2 linked regions of the Homo sapiens genome follow. The protein of the gene in region 2 interacts with the protein of the main gene of each other region in a pairwise test. Each region holds a gene or a part of one and is shown on either strand. Other genes may lie near its edges.

Region 1 (3,749 bases), on a different chromosome or scaffold from region 2:
CTTCTGCTATAATGAAACATTTATTTAAAAACAACAATGTTGAGTTCTGTCCTTTTACCTCTTTTCTTAAAGTATCTTAACAAAATACTGCAGACTTGGTTTAAAATTTCAGCCTGACTACTTATAAGCTGTGTACCTTGACTGGGCAAGTTACTTAGTGTTTTTGAGCCTTAGAGGCCTCATTTGAAAAAAATAAAGGAGGCACGCAGGGAATAAAACCTCCTACCTTGCAAGATCTTGCGGGGATGGGAGAGAATGCACAGAAAGCAGCTGGCACGGAAGAGCCTCAAATTGGTGGCTTTTATAATCATCATCCCCAACGCCAAGGAACACTCTCCTTCTATTGTTTTGGTAGAAGATATAAGTCATTCTATCTTCACTCAGCGGGACTGGTGACAACAGGCAAATGGGGCTTTTGATATCAAAGTTGCTGTTGGCACTCAATTTGCGGTTTCAATCGCTCCTCTGGCTTTCGGAGTTTCCCTTTGGCATCTGAAACTGCGGATAACTCTCTCAGGTAAGAAACCTTATTTGGCATGTGACTAGGGCTTCCAAAATTCTGTTTTTAATCTGTCATGAGAAATATCATTAGGAGTTTAGAGAAGGAGAGCAAATTGATGAGAGTGCAGTGATTTCATAAATTCCTTAAGAAAGAATAAAAGTAAATAAACATCTGATTCAAAGCAGATCTGACAACATCTTCTCATTATCTCCTAGAGAAGGATCCCTACTGTGCAACCACATTTAAAGAGCACTGGGATGCTTTTCTGCTTGTTCAACCCTGCATTTCACTCAGAACCTTCTTTCATTGATATGGGCAGAACTGTTGACTTCATCCCCACCTCCAATTCAGGTCCTCTAAAGCTGTAAGAAGCAAAGCTCTTTACTGACTGCTAAATTCCAAATATACTTTCTGATTCTGCTACCCTTAATGATAATTAACACGTAACACTGAAATGAAGACAGGAGTTCCCAAGGGCCCTGTGCTCAGACGTATGCTAGGTGCTGAAGATACAGAGGAAAGACCAGGCCCTGTCTTCCGAGGAACTCACTCTTTACCAAGAAAGACAAAGATCCAAACAAAGCAGTGTGATGAGGATCACACCGTAAGAGCACCAGGTGTTATGTGACACCAGAAAACAGGCAATCCAACCCATTTTGAAAAAGGTCAGAGGACTTATCTTAGGGCAGAAATGTGAAGAATGAAGTATGAAAATGGATGCTATATAATTTATCTTTCAATTCAGCACAGGCTAGAGGAAAAACAAACTGCACATAAAAAAGCCAGGGTTTTGATTCTCCTTCTATCATTCACTAATTATACCATCACAGGTTGGCCAGTAACTTAGCCCTTTAGACTCTCAGTGTTACTGAGAGTCAGTAGGACATGGTAAAAAGAACAATGGACCTGTAAAAGAACAAAGCTTGACCCTTCACTCTGACATTTTATTATAAGCATGTCACCATGGGCAAGTCACTTTAGCTGTCAGAATCTTGGTTTCTACAACTGAAAAACTAGGCTAATAACCTCTCCATCTCTGAGCTGTTACCAGTATCGAGATTACAAACATGACCCAGTACCAACAAGTGCCTCAAAAATGTCCACAAGCTGATTTATTAACAGTAAATCTAAGCCATCCAATCATTAAATATTTCAGCATAGTTGAAGGACTAAGATGTTCCTTAGGAAAGAGGGCATCTACAAACCGAAAATTCATTCTCAAACGCACACAGAGGAGAGCAGGAGCTTCTCACCAGTGCAGACTGTTTTTCCTCCCTACCCCTGGGACCCAACACAGAGAACCAGCATGGCAGGTTCTCTATAAGCCTGTTACTAATGTCCAATACCAAAACCCTGTAACTCACAATCACTGGGTCACTTTTAATCATAATACACTGTATAAAACTCAGAAATGGCATATCTAACACTGTGAGTGATCGCATTTTCTTAAAAAAAAAAAAAAACTGATAACACAAAGAAAAACAATAAAAAACTAAAAACTAAATAATCACATCCTCCTTTGGATGAAACAGAAAATCACAAACTATAGCATGAAGGCACCATACCTAAATACAGTTCTGCAGTTCTCATTCTTACTCTCTACTTTACAAGTCTGTGACATTCAAGCAAATCCGAAATGTTTTCCAAAAGGGGTCCCCAAAAATCAAGTTTTAAGCCCCTGGGTTTTGTGGATTACAAAGAGATGTACATAAAATAATAATCCTTCCTTAATATATTTTTATCCTCCATATTTATTCTAAGTAATGCTAAGAATTGTAATATTTGAGAAACTGATATAAAAACCATTTTGATATACAAACAAAAAACTTTTATCAACCTAGACACAAATCTGGACCACCTTAATCTTGAATCCTCAGCTCCACTTTCTCTTGTAATCAACGACAACTAAATGTAACTTGGCAGTGAGCCAGCCACCAATCCATACATTATATCAGATAATTAAAAATACAGTGTTATGTAATCTTATTTAATGGTTACTTGGCTTGTATTGAAAACCATCCAAACCAATATCAGAGACTTGGATTAAATTATAATGCATAAGACATTTCTAAAGATGTTTTTTAGTAAGAGTCAGCACATCCCCTACTAGCAAATATAAAACATGCAACACCACTTTCATCTGCAATTAACCTCTCCTTGGCAAGAATTGCAATGTCAATTCACCCTACAGGCACCAAGGCGGGGTCCGGAGTGGGATCCCAAAGCCTATTTTCTTTGACTGACTTTTAACATCAAATAAACATTAACCACTAATTTTGTTAGAGAAACAAATTCAGAGGCCAGGCACGGTGGCTCACACCTGTAATCCCAGCACTTTGGGAGGCTGAGGCAGGCAGATCACGAGGTCAGGAGTTCGAGACCAGCCTGGCCAACACAGTGAAACCCCGTCTCTACTAAAAATACAAAAATTAACCAGGCATGGTGGCGCACACCTGCAGTCCCAGCTACTCGGGAGGCTGAGGCGGGAGAATCGCGCAAACCCAGAAGGCAGAGGTTACGGTGAGCCTAGATTGTGTCACTGCACTCTAGCCTGGGCAACAGAGCCTGGGCAACTTCGTCTCAAAAAAATAAATAAATAAATATTCGGGAAACAAATTCATTTAGGAGGTGGAGGAGGAGAACCAGTTATTCTGGTAAAATGAAAATAAAATCAGCAATCAGTGCCCACGATGAAACACAAGTCTGGAAAAATATAAAAGCCAATGTATACCAGACAGGAGTATATCTCTTATTGTCATCCTAGCTCAAGAAAGAAAAAGAGTAATTCAGTTAGGAAGTTGATCAATCTTTACGAACACTGAATTTTTAAAGAACGACTACACCTCATCTATAAACTGCTTCATTATCATAATGCATTGATTATTAAACTAATACACTAGTCACAGGAGGGCTTTAATTCAAAACTGCCTCTTGGCCTCAGCATCAAAATCCTGGAAGATAAATCTACCGTGAATGTTTGCTTCTTCAAAGAAGGCAAGTGCAGACAGAAACTTTCTGTAAAAATCAGGATAAACTTCCTAAAGGATATATACTATTTCCTACACATTTAAGTCAGTTGGAAACAATCATACTAATTATATTGATTTCTGCAGGGTCTGAAGTTAGCAAGTGAGAAGTATTTCATTCCAACATTTTAGGAAGCCAAAATAAGAAAGAACAACCTCTTCAGAGACAGAAGACCTGAGATTTCAAATTAAATCTCAGTTGCCCAAAAGCTTAGATAGCT
Region 2 (3,749 bases):
ACACTCACGTATCTTTTTTTGATTGTGTTTTTTTTGTTGTTGTTCTTATTTTTTTAATTTAATTTTTTTTTGAGGCAGAGTCTCACGCTGTCCCCCAGGCTGGAATGCAGTGGCGCAGTCTCAGCTCACTGCAAGCTCAGCCTCCCGGGTTCATGCCATTCTCCTGCCTCAGCCTCCCGAGTAGCTGGGACTTCAGGCGCCTGCCACCACTCCCGGCTAATTTTTTGTATTTTTAGTAGAGACGGGGTTTCACCATGTTAGTCAGGATGGTCTCAATCTCCTGACCTCGTGATCCACCTGCCTCGGCCTCCCAAAGTGCTGGGATTACAGGAATGAGCCACTGCGCCCGGCCTTTTTTTTAATTTTTTTGAGACAGAGTCTCACTCTGTCGCCCAGGCTGGAGTGCAGTGGTGAGATCTCGGTTCCCTGCAATCTGTGCCTCCTAGGCTCAAGAGATTCTCCTGCCTCAGCCTCCCGAGTAGCTAGGATTACAGGCACATGGCACAACACCCAGCTATTTTTTTTTTTTTTGAATTTTTAATAGAGACAGGGTTCCACCATGTTGGCCAGGCTGGTCTCGAACTCCTGACCTCAGATGATCCACCTGTCTCAGCCTCCCAAAGTGTTGGGATTACAGGCGTGAGCCACTGCACCCAGCCTTACATTCACCACATCTTACCTGACCCCACACCCCCAAGTGAGAACCTGGGCCAGAGACTTGGGTTTCACCTAGACATCTTCCTTTCCCTCGCTAGCGCGACACTCACCATGCTTTCCATATATTCTCTCAAATGTCTCTCCGTGTCCCCCTTGACACTGTCCCTGTCTTAGTTTAGTCTCCCCTCGCTTTCCTAATCCTTTTCTTACCCCTGCTCATGACTTTTTTTGACTCTACCCAGTAGTCTTGCTCCCTCCCACCCACCCTCCACACAGCAGGCAGAGGGGCCTTTTTTTTCTCTCTCTCTTCTTTTGAGACAGGGTCTTACTCTGTTGCCCAAGCTGGAGAGCAGTGGCCTGATCATAGCTCACTGCAGCCTGCAACTCCTGGGCTCAAGCGATCCTCCCGCCTCAGCCTCCCAAGTAGCTGGGACTACAGGCATGTATTTTTTTTTTTTTTTTTTTTGAGACGGAGTCTCACTCTGTCGTCCAGGTGGAGTGCAGTGGTGCAATCTCAGCTCACTGCAACCTCTGCCTCCCGGGGTTAAGCGATTCTCGTGCCTCAGCCTCCCGAGTAGCTGGGATTACAGGCATGCACCACCATGCCCAGCTAGTTTTTGTATTTTCAGTAGAGATGGGGTTTCACTGTGTTGGCCAGGCTTGTCTCGAACCCCTGACCTCAGGTAATCCGCCCGCCTTGGCTTCCCAAAGTGCTGGGATTACAGGCGTGAGCTCCACCGCGCCCGGCCCAGGCTACGGATTTTAGCTTTTATGTTCATTGTACCAGGAACTGTGTAAGTGCTCATGTATATTTATTGAGTCGATGAATGAAGCACCAATTGTCGAATGACCTTGAGGACTCCTGCAGGATGCTAACGAACACACTTCTCAGCCGGACTGAGCTCCATCATCCTGCCATGCGGCTCACCCCACCTGCGTTCTGGCTTCATTCCTGTCTCCATGCACTTGCTTAAAGTCGTGCCGGCGTCAGGATCTCCCTTCCTACCAGCCAGGAAGCTCTTCCCTCTTATTTTCCCCGCTCCTCGAGGTAAAGGTGCGCACAGAGGGGCCCCCAAGGCGTGACTGGAAGGCTTGTGGGTCGCTATGGTTACTGCATCCGCCCGGGGCGGGACATCCCCAGGACGCCCAGCCTCTAGGGGTGCGAGGTGGGAAGCTCTGGAGCGGCCCAGCGCAGGGGCGGGCAAGCCAGGAGGCAAAGCGGTTTCCTCACGCCTCCACCCCACCCACACAGTTGTCAAGGAGACAAAGCGCTTCCCTTCAGCGCTGTCTCCCTCCCCTTTGGTTAGAGGGCAGGGTGGGCTGGAAGACTGTCCGAAAGGTTGGGTACTGGCGCGCTCCCAGCATCTCTCCCATCCAAGCTCGCAACGCCTGCGCCGAGACCCGGTACCGGGTACAACCCGAGGCACGCGCATGCGCGCGATGGAGTTTTTGCGCGTGCGCCGTTGTGGCCCCAGGAAGCTGGGGTACCCGCGCGGCGCTAACGTTGCGGCTGCGCAGTTGCGGCCTGCTGGTGGGGCTCGGCGGAGCGCAGTTCTGCGCCTGCGCTGTGCTGGGGTAGGTGGGAATGAAACCCTGGCGGTAAGGGCATTGGGGCCGACTGGCCCTGGGCGCGCCTGCGCCTTGGCATGCGGGGCGGCCGGAGGCGGGGCCGAAAGAGGGGAGGGAGGGAGGCGGGGGGTGGGAACAGGCCGCAGAAGCCCGAGCCCTGACCCACCGGCGGCTGCGGCGGAGCCGGTGAGTGACCCGTGGCCCGACTCGGTCCCCACCCTCCGCGACCTTCGCTCTCCCTGCCGTCCCCCGTAGCCTCCGTTGTCTCCTTGTGATACGGGACCCCCGTTATTTCCAGAGCTCCCCTTAATTTCTGGCAATCCCCAGAGCCCCCACAATCCTCGCAGACCCTGATCCCTAATATTTGATCGTTCCAGCTCTTCCAGTGATACAGGAGCTCCCACCTCACCATTATTCCTGGACATCCCTCTAAGGGCCCTTCTCATATCGGTCTTACAGACGCCCCGTTGCCCCCTAGAGCCCCTAGAGCGCCTCCTCTGCTCCAGATTCCCCCCTTCTTGCTGCATCCCCCCTTCCGCATCTCCTTATCTTCATGCATCTAAGACCCCCCCGAGGCACCCCCATCCTCCCTCCATTTCCTATCCTCCCGTGCCCCCATTCTCTAACTCCTGCAGACACCTCCTCTCCTCGCACTTTTCCTCCTTTCCTTCCATCCCTCCAGACCCTCCCCCAATTTCTATCAACTCTTCAGCGTGGCACTTCGCGCCGCGCGAAGTCCGAGCCAAGCGCTCAGCCGGTGTCAGCTACTCTTAGGCGCTTCCGACTTACCCGGGTGCCCGTCGCCCCCGCCCGCCCCCCGCCCCCACTCCTGCCCCCGGGGACTAAGGAGCTCTCGGCCCGGCGGTCTGGGAGAGGCGGCGGCGGGGGGACCCCGAACCCCAGCCAGCCCCGTGCGCCCTTTGCCCGCAGCGCCGGCGCCCCCCATGCGCCAGACGGCAGGACGGCGGCGTCGGGGGGCGCCATGGCCTCGGCGGCGGCGGGCGAAGCGGAGGAAACCACCCGGTTGCGCAAGCCGCGCTTCTCATTCGAAGAGAACCAGATCCTGATCCGCGAGGTGCGCGCCCACTACCCGCAGCTCTACGGCGCGCAGAGCCGTCGGGTGAGCGTGGCAGAGCGGCGGCGCGTGTGGGACGGCATCGCCGCCAAGATCAACGGTATCACCAGCTGGAAGCGCACGGGCCAGGAGGTGCAGAAGCGCTGGAACGACTTCAAGCGCCGCACCAAGGAGAAGCTCGCTCGCGTGCCGCACTCCACGCAGGGCGCCGGGCCCGCCGCGGAGGACGCTTTCTCCGCGGAAGAGGAGACCATTTTTGCCATCCTGGGGCCAGGTGTGGCGGCGCCGGGGGCAGGTGCTGGGGCGGAGGAGCCCCCTGCGGCCCCCTCTTCACAGCCGCCGCCCCCAAGCGCCTGCCCTCAGCGCTACGTGTTGTCGGAAGACCGCCGGGAGGACCGACGTGCAGGTGAGTGTCTTCAGAGTAGGCTGTGTGCCTGCGCTGTTGCAA

What was found. Proteins that work in one complex are often made in the same cells at the same time.
Region 1: the proteins of MYPOP (region 2) and KHDRBS3 interact in binary tests that used the Homo sapiens proteins (3 or more experiments, as listed by UniProt).

The regions. Positions count from the first base shown.
Region 1 is NC_000008.11:135,460,454-135,464,202, reverse strand, and holds part of KHDRBS3 (KH domain-containing, RNA-binding, signal transduction-associated protein 3), read right to left. Parts: intron 571-3,749; exon of another isoform or gene 315-570; coding exon of another isoform or gene 227-314; intron 1-226. UniProt on the Homo sapiens protein: RNA-binding protein that plays a role in the regulation of alternative splicing and influences mRNA splice site selection and exon inclusion. Binds preferentially to the 5'-[AU]UAAA-3' motif in vitro.
Region 2 is NC_000019.10:45,901,233-45,904,981, reverse strand, and holds the start of MYPOP (myb-related transcription factor, partner of profilin), read left to right. Parts: upstream 1-2,368; 5' UTR 2,369-2,412; intron 2,413-3,156; 5' UTR 3,157-3,208; coding exon 3,209-3,707; intron 3,708-3,749. UniProt on the Homo sapiens protein: Transcriptional repressor; DNA-binding protein that specifically recognizes the core sequence 5'-YAAC[GT]G-3'. Dimerization with PFN1 reduces its DNA-binding capacity.